Homo sapiens: one gene and its partners. The protein of the gene in region 4 interacts with the protein of the main gene of each other region in a pairwise test. Each region holds a gene or a part of one and is shown on either strand. Other genes may lie near its edges.

The links.
Region 1: the proteins of SMCO4 (region 4) and SLC7A14 interact in binary tests that used the Homo sapiens proteins (3 or more experiments, as listed by UniProt).
Region 2: the proteins of SMCO4 (region 4) and GKN1 interact in binary tests that used the Homo sapiens proteins (3 or more experiments, as listed by UniProt).
Region 3: the proteins of SMCO4 (region 4) and TFEC interact in binary tests that used the Homo sapiens proteins (3 or more experiments, as listed by UniProt).

What each region holds. Positions count from the first base shown.
Region 1 is NC_000003.12:170,478,076-170,481,575, forward strand, and holds part of SLC7A14 (solute carrier family 7 member 14), read right to left. Parts: intron 3,092-3,500; coding exon 2,214-3,091; intron 1-2,213. UniProt on the Homo sapiens protein: Imports 4-aminobutanoate (GABA) into lysosomes. May act as a GABA sensor that regulates mTORC2-dependent INS signaling and gluconeogenesis. The transport mechanism and substrate selectivity remain to be elucidated.
Region 2 is NC_000002.12:68,973,139-68,977,435, reverse strand, and holds the start of GKN1 (gastrokine-1 precursor), read right to left. Parts: upstream 2,801-4,297; 5' UTR 2,759-2,800; coding exon 2,747-2,758; intron 1-2,746. UniProt on the Homo sapiens protein: Has mitogenic activity and may be involved in maintaining the integrity of the gastric mucosal epithelium.
Region 3 is NC_000007.14:115,936,764-115,940,263, forward strand, and holds part of TFEC (transcription factor EC), read right to left. Parts: 3' UTR 1-3,500. UniProt on the Homo sapiens protein: Transcriptional regulator that acts as a repressor or an activator. Acts as a transcriptional repressor on minimal promoter containing element F (that includes an E-box sequence). Binds to element F in an E-box sequence-specific manner.
Region 4 is NC_000011.10:93,533,392-93,536,891, reverse strand, and holds part of SMCO4 (single-pass membrane and coiled-coil domain-containing protein 4), read left to right. Parts: intron 1-3,500.

The DNA.
Region 1 (3,500 bases), on a different chromosome or scaffold from region 4:
TTTTTTTAAAAAAATTTTTTGAAATGGAGTCTTGCTCTGTCTCCCAGGCTAGAGTGCAGTGGTGTGATCTCAGCTCACTGCAACCTCCATTTCCTGGGTTCAAGCAATTTTCCTGTCTCATCCTCCCAAGTAGCTGGGATTACAGGCACTTGCCACCACGCCTGGCTAATTTTTGCATTTTTTATAGAGATGGGGTTTTGCCATGTAGGCCAGGCTAGTCTCGAACTCCTAAACTCAGGTGATCTGCCCTCCTCGGCCTCCCAAAGTGCTGGGATTATAGACGTGAGCCACTATGCCCAGCCAAGAGATTGTAAATGTGTTATAAAAATTGGTTAAAATCTTGATGAGTCAGTGGGGTCCTCTCAAGAAATCCTCCTGAAGTCTAACCAGGGGGACTTAGAATAGTGAAAAATTGGGACAAAATGCTTACAGGAAGCCATAGAGCAGCCTTCAGAAGCAAGGAGTCAGGCCTCTGGGGAAGACATATGCCCTTTCCATTGGTTGCTACTTTTTCCCCCACTTCTTTCTATCTATATCTTAACTTATAGGGCCACTTTGTATTCTACCCCCTCCAAGTTTTTTCTGGCAATTCTGACTGGAAGTTTTCCTTTTTCCCCTTTGAAGAGTACTTTATAATAATTTAAGAAGTATTTTTGAGCACATACTGCGGGCACCCTGCTCCAGACACGGAGGACACATGTTGAACAAGTGTATTCCTGATCTCTAGGAGTGGATGCACTGCCACTCATCACTAAGAGTCTCTGTGGGCTGGGCACAGTGGCTCATGCCTGTAATCCCAGCACTTTGGGAGGCTGAGGTGGGCAGATCATGAGGTTGAGAGTTCGAGAACAGCCTGGCCAACATGGTGAAACCCTATCTCTACTAAAAACACAAAAATTAGCAGGGCATGGTGGCACTCACCTGTAATATCAGCTACTCAGGAGGCTGAGGCAGGAGAATTGCTTGAACCTGGTTGGCGGAGGTTGCAGTGGGCCATGATCAAGCCACTGCACTCCAGCCTGGGCGACACAGCAAGACTCCATCTCAACAACAACAAACAAAACAAAACAAACAAATAACAACAACAACAACAACAACAAAAAGAGTCTCTTTGGCCTCTCTTGGGCTAAGTGACTCGTGTGTTTGTCTTGCCTCTCCTTTAGGCAGGGTTTACTCTTCTATTCCCCAGAGCTTCTAAAGATCCTCTTTAGCTAAGAATTTGTTATCAGAGACCCCAGGGTTACCAAGTTGTTCAGAGGACATACAAATAGTGACTAAGGAACTTTAAAATGAGTCTTCCATTACACTTCTCAAGTTCTTACTAGCATCAATCCCCAGCCACCTCATGAACATCAGAGATTGTCCTAGATGATAAGCAAGTACTGCAAATACAATAGAAATGGATCACAAAGTAAAATTAGAAATCTTAGAGAAGGTACAGGACTTCTTGAAGTCCGTGAAAGTGAGTTTAGAGAACAATTTGAATTCACACCCAAAATTGTAGACAATTGAGGACCTAACAGAGTCATATTAGTTATTACCAGCAGGAGAGAGAAAATCAGTAAGGATGGTGGCATGATGGGTACTTCCCAAGTGAATGATTGGAATGTCAATGAATGAAGAAAGGACCTTGGGAAATATGAAAAACTTTTGAATATTTTACAAAAGTCAGTATGAAGTGAGAGATGTTAAATGATGCCATGATTCAATTTTGTCAGAAAAATTATGCCAAAAAATCCACACTTAATTCACACCTTGTTCATTTAAAAATGAGAGCATAATTGCTATTTTAATTTAATTTTGTGAAATCTAAGATAGTTTTTCATTTTACAATTCTTAGTTTCTATGATAAAATTCCATCCAAATGCCCTGACCCCAATTATACTATGCTATTTTTGTCACCTTAAAAATGTGGATTCACTTTAAGTGGACTTTTTCTGGTATTAATTATCCTGATATAGAAAGAACTTTCAGTAATTCAGTAAAGCGATGGATTAATCAACATCATTTTTCCAGAACCAATGACTAAGAACATTACAGGCAGAAAGGGGACAACTGGCTTTATTGACTCTTAGGCGGAACACAAGGGTCCATAGAACCAGCCAGATTTCTCTGGGAACGGAGTTGCCTAGTCCAGCTAGGAGGTAATTTTGGGATAAGCATGCTTAAGACCTTAAAAGGGAACTCTTAAGGCTCCAAAGGAAGTTGCTTACCCACAAAGCACCAGACCGCAAACCGGATCCATGTGATGGTGGAGAGCTTTAGCATGAGATAGATGTTCACCAGCATGGCAAAGGCAGGCACAAAGGGGAGGCAAGGGGCCATGTAGGGCAGCTTCTTGGGGTTCTCTGGCTGCTGCAGGATCACAAACACCAGGGTGCTGATCAGCAGCACCATCAGAACAACCAGAAGGATGGCCCACCAGCTCTGCTCTGAGATGTAGTCAGAACCAAAGATGATGAAGGAGCAGAAGATGAACATGAGGATGAAGAGCAGGAGCACGCAGATGGTCACCGTGTGCCCCGTCGCTGCTGTGGGCCGGTCCATTTTGCCTGGAAGGCCCAGCCGGATTCTCATGGTGTAATAATGAGGCCCAATCAGCTTCTTTAACTTGATGAGATAAATATTTTCGGATTCATCAGCTTCTATGCCTGTGGTCATGTCCACGGTGCCGTAATTGGGGTGGTTGACGTTGTAGGTTGACTTGTCTGATTTCCCTATGAGCATCTCATTGTCTCCCAAGGATGGTAAGTTCTTGGCCCCACATGTGTTGGTGGCTGGGCCAGAAAACTCATCCCCCTCACTCACAGGAGAACAAGCTTCCTTCTCACAGTCAGCCAGAATGCCCTCCTTCTTCTTGGTGTGCTCCTCAGACAAGAACTTGACAAAACCATCAATGTCACTCTCAGGTTGGTATCGAAGGAGCAAGACACAGACAGAGACCAAGGTGTAGGCCAGGAGCGTGCCGATAGACATCATCTCTATCAGGTCTCTCAAGCTGACCAACAGTGCGAGGAGCGCTGCCAGGAACCCCGACACGATGCAGGCCACCACTGGTGTCTCTGTGTAGGAGCTGACGTGAGCCAGGAACCTGGAGGGGCCGGGCAAGCAGAGGGTTAATGGTGAGCTACAGTGACCGATTCCAGTGCAGCCAACATAGGGAGCTAGAACTATCAATAGGCTGGTGTGATTAACTCCTCCTGGTCCTGCTCCACCAATTTACTTCTGCATTCACTACTTTAAATCCAGCTGCTATTCCTACCCCAGGATTTGGTATATAATTAAAAAAGAATTCACTTTAAATCTTTGATTTCTTTTTTTTTTTTTTTTTTGGTGAGATGGTGTCTCACTCTGCTTACTCTGTCCCCCAGGCTGGAGTGCAGTGGCGTGATCTCAGCTCACTGCAACCTCCACCTCCTGGGTTCAAGTGATTCTCCTGCCTCAGCCTCCCGAGTAGCTGGGATTACAGGCATGCACCACTACACCCGGCTAATTTTTGT
Region 2 (4,297 bases), on a different chromosome or scaffold from region 4:
CTCTATCCAAGCTTATGAAAAGTATTCACTAATTTTACCAATGTGTTCAGTTCTAGTTCAATGTGTTTTTTTCTTCTCTTACCTTGCATTTTTTAACCATAAAGGTTTTAACGATAATGTGAAATTGCTGATTAATTATAAGTAATTATATTAATGTGATATATAGTTTTAGAATTTTTAGTGTAGGCCTTATGAAACGCTGGAAAAATTGATGAAGAAGGGAAGTTGAGAGCCAGGAAAGCTGCTTTCATCTCATTGCCATCCAGTACTGAGGAAGAAAATGTAATTTTCAAGTAGTGATAAATCAAATTATTGAATCAAATCCCTTTTAAAGTAAAACCCAGAATGTACCATCTTGTTTCTCTTCAGTTTAATAAGTGGTATCATAAAGATGACTTTGCTAAGATAATACTTCTGGAAATGTCAGAATAGAGTTTAAAAATTTTTAAGATTGGTCAAAATATTAACTTTATAATAAAACATATACTTGGCAAATGAATTTCCTATAAATTATCATTGGTCAGAATGCTGTTTTGTTGAATTATATTATGTAATATAAACCATAGGTGTTATTAGAAAGTAGAGAACTGCCTTTCTTATTTAGAGCTTTCAAGGACTTGCTATAAATGATTATTTTTAAAATGCTTTATAAATCTTCATGATTTTTCTATTTTGGATAAACTCAGCTATAGTTAATGACAGCATCCTACCTTGAGTAGATATTTGGATTATTTAAATCTAGTAAAAGAAGAAAGTTATACTTCTTCGAGTATTAAGAGATAGGAGTAAAGATTCACTTTTAAGTTATTGAAAATATGTGTATCCTCCTAAATATTAACAAAAATGATTTGGGATAACTGACATGGCTTGGTTATTCAGCTTAAATTTGTACTGTGGCTTATGTTACACAGGTTGTTGATGCTCACCTCTCACTCACTTGTTTCTAATTGTTTTATAAGGTTTAAAATTCTCTCTTTAGAGAAATTCAGAAAATTCACCTGGCACATATTTTGACCTCCTAGGTAACATATTTGTACCAGTATTGAATTTTGGTCAGTGCCCCAATATAAGAAAGTTACTGTTTTAAAATAAAGCAAACTATCTTATTTTCCTTGGAAAAAAAAAGAAGTTTTACAATAAATAGCATAGTATAAATGAATACTATGGTTTGAGATGGCTATAAGTGCTAAAAATCACATCTGAAAATGATTTCAGTTAATTTTCCTATTTAACATGGGATGTTTTCTTCCTAATAGAAATAATCTTTTTATTAAAAAAAACTTTCCAAAGCAATGGATTAGTAGGCAGTTTGGATGCCAATGATGAGAAAGCAAGTATAGAGTGTCTCGCTGGCAAGAGTGATCAGCAGAGGCGATGTCACTAGCAGTGTCCCAGGATACTTGGTTTAATTATTTATCACAGGGTCCCTGACATTGGTTTTCAGAGCACAGAGCTTTATGCAGGGTGCCTCATTCTGGGTACCTAGTCTCATTTCCTTTGCCTGGGACAAAATAGTTTTGAGAACTGCTCTAGAGATTCAAGGTAACTTTTGAAAAAAAATTAAATTTTTCTCCCAATAGCTTAAAAAGGAGTTAAAAATTAGTCTCCTAAAAAGTCAGAGGTAGAAGAAATTTTAGAGAACACCTAGTACAATGCAATCATTTTACAGATAAGGTAACTGAGCTTCAGGGGTTAAGTGAGTTGGCCAAACTTATACCTCTTGTTCACAGCAGAACTAGGAGAGAAATCAAATCTAACCTGTGTCTGGAGCTCCCTCTGACCCTTTTAAACTTTGCTGCTATTAAGAGGACCTAGTTCTAGGTAGTCATTTTACATTTGCAGCCCCATTATAAAGTAGAGTCTGCCGTAACGTTTTCCAGTGTGTAGTATGTTGAAACATGAAAATAGTCATCTGATTCTAGCCCCTTTGCATCGTGTTGTGAGAAACCCGGCACTACTAGTTACTTTGGCAGGGTTTCTCGGTCCACCTCCTCCTAGACTCTCAGGCTTCTGTCTGGAACCACAGGAGAGATGCTGTGGTAGCTTCATGTTTCAGATGCTTTCTTAAATAAATGGCCATGCTAGAGCCCAAGGCAAATCTTTCTTTCTTGGAGACCCATTTTACTGTAACAAATGTGACAAGAAGTCTATCTCAGCCACTTATTTTGATAATAAGCTTTTCATCTTTCCTGAACATGCTCAGGAATTTTGGTAAATAAAAGGAGGAATTCAAGAATGAGGGATGATCGGCACTTTCTAGGGCTTAGGAACTGCTTACCCTGCATGGAGACCGGAATCAGGTGATGCGGAAAGTCATTTTGTTAAAAATAGGTCAGTGTGAGGTGCTCAGACAGCTGTCTAATCTCAGCACAATTATCCTTCTCTATAGAGATGCTTATAAATGCCATGATTATATAAATAGAAAAAAGATTTTTTTTCATTATTTCTTCTTCTAAAAAAAAGGGATACATGTGCAGAACGTGCAGGTTTGTTACATAGGTATATGTGTGCCATGGTGGTTTGCTGCCCCTATTGACCTGTCCTCTAAGTTCCCTCCCCTCACTCTCCACCCCCCAACAGGACCTAGTGTGTGTTGTTCCCCTCTCTGTGTCCATGTGTTTGAAGAGAGAATTTTTTTAAAACAAATTTTCCATGATGGGGCCATAAGAAGCAGACCTCCTAAATCTCAGAATATTGACAGTCTCCAATCATTTGGTGGTAAATTCAAAAGGAAAAATCTACTCACTGTGAACTTCATCTTGTCTTCACGAAAGCAGTGGACAGAGGAGTAGGCAAGCATGGACCTGAATGAGAAGCCTTCTCATATTTGTACTTAACCAGGTTGACTCAAACTAGGTGTTATCAGGTGGGGTCAAAGACTTACCTTCCTCAATTTCTCCTATCTGTGCCATGAGCCAGTGTACCAGGAAACCTTTCAGAATATCTGCATGCTTAGCAAGGAACTTTCACATGGAGTTGACCTGACTCATCACTTGTTGAAGCTGAAGGTATCACAACAAACTCAATATGATTTATGATAACTTCTCACCCAGTCAAAGCTGTGGGCGTGAGTATTTTACACGCTAACATTGCTCAGATTCAGAAAAAGAATAATCCCTAAAATCAAACAAAATCACAGCTGAAAAGCCACGTGTATACTAGGCCTTCCAGATAGCAGCTCCTATAGGAATGTAGGAATGGTTTCCACTTCTTAACTTTTATCTGAGCCCATGGCAATGGTTTTGCTTAGACTAAACATGTTTTGTGAGCAACTCCCACCAAACCTACCCCTTTTCTGCAATGTTGAGCTCACTTAATGATAGCACCATATATCTGGTACAGCCCTTTCTTCTCAGTCTGACATCTACTTAGTTACTGTCATTTTATCTCTGAAATGCCTCTCAACTCTGACCTTGCCCACAGCTCCCCTCACCTGGACTTTCACAACAGTCATGCAATTGATCACTCTGGTCACCAGTTTCTTATATTCCAATGCATTTTCTTCATTAACCCTGAGGTTGTCTTTCTGAAGTGCATAGATAGACATGACTCTATCACGCTTGGAAATTTCGCTGGCAGCCTACAGAAAATTCAAAGTCATTGGAATGGCATCCAGGGTCCTATGTAATAAGATTTCCAAAGGCTTCCCGTCTGCCACTTTATGCTATGTACCTACATTCTAGCTCCACCAGCGTTCCCACCATTCCTGGAAAAGTCAAGATGTGTATGTCTCCATGCCTTTGTACATGCTGTTGTTTTATCTTGGAGGGCCACCCGCTAGCCTCTCGCTTGGTAGACTCCTGTTCATTGTTCAAGGCTCAGCTCAAATATCACTGCCTCCATCACATCTCCCCCATCTGATAGATAGAACTTTCCTAGTGTTTGTTTTTTCCTTCTGGGAACTATAAAAGCAATATCTTTTTATTTGCTTCTAGATAATTTAGTTTTCAGAAGTTACATTAAAATAATAAAAAATATTTTCATCAAAAGCAGAGAGTAGAAACTATCAATTGGGCAGACAAGTAAAAGCTCAAAACAGGTTTGGAGGTGAGTTGGTTTTAATTTTTTTCCTGCTTTTTCCTATACAGTGAAGCTAGTAAATTAAATTTGCCAAGGAGGAAAACTGTATTTCATTAACTACCAATCTATAAATTTTCCCTTTGGAAACTTCGTGCCCACAATTTTCCTCCTGTGCATGGATTGAAACCATAAGATGGGATCACATGGTTATAAAGCTTGATTCGCTATCAACATCTCTTCAAAACTGTTGGTAGGAGTGGATTAGAACAGCTGCAGT
Region 3 (3,500 bases), on a different chromosome or scaffold from region 4:
TAAGTAAGAGCTATTAAATATTTGATTTACAGTCATGTAGGTGGGAAAAAAATGAGTTGAAAAAGGAAGAGGAAGGCTATTTCTCAATGTCCCCAGCTCATCTGGCTATTTATTATTTAGGGCTTTTTTAAAAACCTATATAAAGAAAGCCATGGTCACTGATATGCCTATAAACTGAGAAAATACCATCTGTACATATATTCTCCATTTGATATAGGAAAAATTCAAGAAGAAAAGGCACTAAAGAAAAAAATTGTAAAGAGCTGTATCTACTCACAGGAGGTCATCATTATTTTAAGACAATTGGAAGTTGGAAAGGGCTGTTTAATGTGAATCCAAGAAAAAGCAGCCAATATTTAATAATATAAAAAATGATTGGATGGGATATTTTGTTGAAAAAAGAATGAAAAACAATAAAATTATTGTATCTTACTTTAAAGGAAGTTTTATTATAATTGTAATTATGAATTAAATCTTTAAATGAAAAGGGATAATTGTATATTAATTGAATGAATAAATCAATAATTATGCATTAATAGTCCCATTACAGTTGATGCTTTTTGTGACAGCATTGTTTGATAAACATATGCCTCTTTTACTATTATGAAAAATCTCATTTCTGCAAGAAATATTCTAGAGAGTCAAATTTTTCTAGAAGTCTATCTTGTTTCTTAGATACTCAAATAATTTGCTTTTAAATTCACACTATTTTTGTTTGGAAATTTATTTGCATCATTTCAAAATGTTATGGTCAGATGTTTATAACACTCAGTAATTATAGTGAAACTGACCCATATATAATAAATAGAAGGCATAGTTTGCTGAGTGGGGAGGACATGTTTGATAAACGACTACTTCATAAATGAACAACTTTTTTAGTGAATAATCTAAAGTTTGGTACACTATTACTTTCCTATGCAACCTCATCATTATTAGGATTGGGATAATTATATTTAGATAAGTAAGGGTCCCCCCATTGTTATACATGACATTAACCGCACACCTAAGAGACCTGATTCAGGAATTTTTCACTTGGGATCCAAGAAAACATTCAGGAGATCCCTAAGATCTCTGAATGCATGTGAATTATTGTCCATATAAACAGTTCTATACTTTTCTAGGGAGAGGGTCTATAACTCACTAGATTCTCAAGGTATCTGCCTTAAAAAGTTAAGAACTACCATCTAATTAATTTTTAATGTATTTCAGTTGACCGGGACACAGCATAACTCTTTACTCTCTTTAAAAATTCATTACCCTTTTTACAGTTCCCTGACATCTCATAATCTGAATGTAGCAGCAAATAGCAGTTCCCTCTCCAGATCTCTTGTGTCCAGGCTCTATCATCCTGTGCCAAGTCCTTATCTCAGCCAAGATTGTGAAGGATAGATTTCAAGGCCCAGTAGTTGTACCTTAACAGAACAGAAAATAATGACTGAGTAATGACATCATCAGTGCAAGTCTACTCAAAATATGAAGAAATGAGAAGAGCAGATAAAATGAGAACTGAAGCCAGTCTCTATCTAATAAAGTGGTGTGTTTTCTATGAACTCCAAAATATATTCCTTATCTATAATTTTTAACATTTAATCAAATTATCAACTCAGATAATGAAGTGGAATTTTGTTATAAAATTAAAAGTATGTAATATCGTCTTGAAAATTATTGAGAAGATGTATCTAATAGCTGTTTCACATGGCATATTTCAGATGAATTTATCTATCAGGCTTTAATGACTGTACCCAGAAGTTAGTAATTATTTTTCCATGTCAAACAATAAAATTATTTTAATTCTCCAAATTCTGAGCAAATGATACAAGCTAAGCCTGAGATAATTATTATACCATAATGATTTACTATTTTTCTACTTTTATCAGCATTAGGGTCTCACATTTCATAGTGACATATTTTCCATGTGAGAAGCAACTAAAAGATCCTTTCAAAATTTATCCCAAAGCTTAATATTCATGAAAGATTACATCTCACTCATTAGTAATATATATTTTAGTTTTTAGCATCCTCCCTGCTACTAAAAAGATTTGTTTCTATTATATTAATACTATATTATTTCACCATAGTTTTCTAAGGGCCTTCACAACCTGTTGTCAGTCTTATGCTTCAGAACTCCCCAACAGACATCTTCTAGGGCATCCAGATCTTTCTAATTAAAGTCCTATAAAGATACTTCCCCTATTATTCTCACTTTTATCATTTGGTTGGTATTATTCCTTTATATGCCCTCACTTTCACTCAATTAATGCCTTTCAAAGAGAAGTCAAATTCTGCTGTTCCCATAAAGTTTGTCAGTCATTTTCATTTTCTCTGACCTTCTGTATTTACAGTTTATGCTTAGATTTTTTATTCTATATGTCTTCTATCTTTTGTTTTTGTTTTTCATGCATTCTCATTAACTACCTTAGGAGTAAGACCATATCTTTTTCAACTCTTCTACATTTTCTCAGGACTCACTGCAGTTCTGAGTATGCCTCCATGAATACTCATTGATCGGATGATCACTCTTGGAGGTCCAGCACAGAGCAACGTGCTTGGTAACTTAATTTCCTAACCTAAAACAAGCGCAAGAGATAAAAATCTAAATGAAGCATCATAGTTATAAGTGCTTATAATAAATGCTAACAGTGCAACCAAAGATCATAGGACACTCTAAGTGTTTATAGAAATAGAACCTTACGTTCCTCTCAGAACTGAAAATAATAAGAAATAGTTTGTTGTAATAATTATTTTGTCAATTGGCAATTCAATTTTCAATATTTTATCCATTTGGAGAAAAACCAAATCAACAACTAATTGATTTCTGTCCAATACTGATGAAAAGTTTTAAGTACCTGAAAACTGTCCTTGCAGGGGGACATTTTATATTTTATTTACTAAAATTGATGATCTGACATCTCTTCTTCATAAGAAAAGAGAATTTGGAATGTGATTCTGATGCAGTCAGAAGCATGAAGAAAACAAAAGAACATATACTACCTGAATGATGTGCATATGTGTATGTGTATGTTTGTGTGAAGGGATACAATTCTGGTCCATATTCCTGAGGAAAATATTCAATATGTTCCTTTTCCTGAACAGAGACTGGAGATATAAATATGCATGGATGCTTTTAGAATTAGTGTAATTGAACCAACTACAATAAAATGAGGATCTAATTTTAGTAACCAATGTTTTTATAAGTTATCCATATTTTATTGTGGAAAATTCTCACATTTATTGTAGATTTGCCTTTCAACCACAAGTGACAGATAATCTATTATACATTTATTTATCCTATAAAGTTTGAACTTTAGACATGTCTACTAGACAATGGAGAAAGGCAATGACCACCTGATATGTTGATCTTGATTCCGGAAGACTGATGTGAAAGTTGAAGAGAAGATGGAAATGAGTAACTAAGAGACTGTTTGTATATTTCAGTCGTTTAACACTTTGCAGTCATTAGTTCCAGTAGTACACCACCAAGTTGCTGCTTTTAAAACATC
Region 4 (3,500 bases):
AGTGCAGCATAGAAACCTGTTCAAATTGGTGCAGCAATTTCACATCAGCATAAGTAGCTTGTTTTGGTGGTGGTGGTTTTTTAATCAGTTTAGGTGCTTTTTTTCTGAAATCATATAGGTAATATGTAAATGTATTCTCCTGCAGCCTGCCCTTGCATTTAAATAGTGCAGAAGGACACAGCAGACTTGTCACATTCCCCTTCACCCAGCACCCCTCCCCAGGTGCCAGCTCCTCCAGGTCCTCAGAGATAACTGGTGTTAGCAGTTGGATCCGTGTCCTGAAACTGTCAAGCCTGTATACACAAATACACTATGGTTTTCCTTCTTTTAGAAGCATGAATCTGATTGCATCATACTGCTTTTTTCACATAGTATATTTTCGAGAGCTTTTCATGCATGTAGCTCTTCTCTGTTCTTTTAATTTGTCTTTTATTTGCCTACAAAATATTTTCCAGTGTAGTTATGTCATAATTTATGAATTGGTCCCCTACTGGTAGACATATAAACTAACTCATTAGTTTTGCTATTATATCTTCATTCATACATATTAGTATGCACATGTTTCTCTAGGAGTAGAATTGGCATGTCAAATGTTAAATTCATTTAAAATGTTGCAGCAGTACCCATACTATGCTCTCAAGAGATGTGCTAGTTCCTGTTGTCAGTGGTAATGGGCTGCCATTCCCCTGGGTGAAAGAAATGGATCATTGTTCAGTAGGCATTTCATTTATTATTGGTGAGGTTGCAAACCTCATCATTTGGCTTCTTTTTTTTTTCTTGATAAACAGACATGTTTAATGATAGCTTGCTCTTCACAGAGATGTCTACGGAGACTTTTTATCTATAATCCAGGAGTATATAACCATGCAGCACAGACCAATTAGCCAAATGCAAAATAAACTAGATTCTTACCACAACTATCCTATAAACACTGCAACTATTCTTTCCAAAAAGACCCTAATCTTATGTGAAAACACCTACTGTGGGGGAACCAGAAACCTAGCTATGTGGCCAAAAGGAAAAAATAGCAATTCAGTGGTTAATTGGTGAAAGCAGGAAATGTATGTCCTTTACTGTGCTGCTGTTGCTGCTGCTGCTGCTGCTTTGGTCTTCTTAGTTTTGTTCTTTTTGTCTCTCTTCTTCAGCCCATCCATGTTAGCTCTCAGGAGGTTTGAATAAGCCATCTGAAACTTATTCACTTCCTCGGAGCTCACCACTGTGCTGATCTTCTTTTTCCCATCGGTAGCTCTTAACAGACACTTGTTGTCTGCAGGCTCAAAGCCCTCCACAGTACCTTTCTTTGGAATGGATTTGGTTCGACTGTCATACTTCTTCAAGGTGATATGATGCTGCCTGATGTCCAGCACTTCTGGAAAAGTCTGGTCAGCTCCGTCAGGAGCTGCTCGCTCTCCAACAACACCATCGCGGCGACTCTGGCTCGACTCCCTCTGCTTAAGCCCCTAGCAGTGAGAACTGGTTATTTGGCTTCTTGATTCTTATTGCTGAGATCGTAGATGTTAAGAGTGGTGGGTCCATAGCAACTATAGAAGATGAGGGAACCAAACCCTCAAGGACCATGGCTCAGCTCAGGGTGGTGTAAGCGTCATGCCACCAGTGGTGGCATTGTGGTACCTGGAAGCAAGAGCTCCTGATTTCACATTCTCTGTTTCTCCCGGATGCTAGTTATGGTAATAGGACATTTTAATTTTGGTGTAACTTGCCAGAGTATTTCTCCAAACCTTTCATCTGAGGAATCAAGGGTCCGTAAGTATTAAGATCAGTCTGTCCTGTGCTGCTGAGGCGTGGATTGGAGACTGGGGAGGGGCACTGGGAAGACACTTAAAGATTGCGTGCTGGAAAATCAGGCACTGTTGCTTCTGGAAAAGCCTCCAGGAATGTGGTAAAGCAGATGTTTTCTTCTAGTTGCATGTGATTATTCCCCCTCTCCTGGCTTGCTATGGGAATATTGTGGTGCTTTGACCCTTAGCAGGATGCTCTGGGGAGAAGCGATGACTTCTTAGAAGGTGTTTGAGGGGTGTGACACAATGGGCTGGCAGAGAAGGCGTCTGGTGGCTTCCATGAATGGGCTGATCTCGGGGCCCTCCCTGCAGGCTGGGCTGTCCAGTGGACACAGTGGGCTTCGGAAAGCCCTGGCTTACTGGACCACAGAGTCCTTTACCTATTGCTCAAAGGGGCAGAGAGCAGGAGTGGTGGAGGGGGAACCCTTGGGAGATGAAGGGACTGCAGAGTTGAGCCACACTGGACCCAGCTCCCATTCAGCACCTTATGGGTGTGTGCCTTGAGCAGCTATTTTATCTCCCTGGGCCTCAGCTTTTCCCTGTAAGTTAGGAATAATAATTAGTACCTGCCTCACAGGGTTGTTGTGAAGATTAAAAGAATAATGTTTATAAATCTCTCAGCATATTACCTAATTAGTACTTGGTAATTGTAAGTAACTCCACCTATTTGTGTTCCCTTTTCCATATATATATGTATCTCTCTCTCTCTCTCTCTCTATATATATATATATATATGTATGTGTATATATATGTGTATATATGTATATGTGTATATATGTGTATATATGTATATATATGTGTGTGTGTATATATGTATATATATATGTGTTTGTGTGTGTGTGTGTGTGTGTGTGTGTGTGTGTGTGTGTGTGTGTGTATATATATATTTTTTTTTTTTTTTTGAGACGGAGTCTCATTTTGTCGCCCAGGCTGGAGTGCTGTGCCGCGATCTTAGCTCATTTCAACCTCTGCCTCCCAGGTTCAAGCAATTCTCCTGCCTCAGCCTCCCTAGTAGCTGGAATTACAGGTGTGCGCCACCACGCCTGGCTAATTTTTGTATTTTTAGTAGAGATGGGGTTTCACTGTGTTTGTTGGCCAGGCTGGTCTTGAACCCTGGACTTAAAGTGATCTGCCCACCTTGGCCTCCACAAGTGTTGGGATTACAGGCGTGAGCTACCACACCTGGCTAATAACTGTTTTAAAATGAGTGACTACATATCATATTTGCATATTACATAAGTAGACTTAATCTGGTAACATTAAAGAGAAGAGGTCAGGAGATTAGTAGCTGTCGGGGCAGATGAGGGTGGGGGCTATGGGAATTAAAAGGGATGAAGGTGGGAGGCTTCGGTGGAGGCCTTAGGTGGGGCAGGAGAGTTGAGTTGGGATGTTCTCTTCCAATACCATTGCTCCTGCAGAATCCCCTCCTTTGTGCACATCAGAGCCCCACACGCAGAGGCCTTTTCTCTTTTTTTAGATAGACTGAGGGTTAGGGGATTGCTAGTGCAACCTCTACCCTTTATTTCGAGGTGGCTGAGTGGGGCCCTGAAAGCCAAAGTGTCTGCCTCAAGCTACACAGATGGCCAGGACAGAGCACAAGTAGGCCCAGCTCTCTGTGCTCTGGGGAGTTGAGATTTCTTTCCCTTCTTCCCTGCACTGCCATGTGTTGCTTATAGCCAGATGCAGGAAAGAGACATGGTG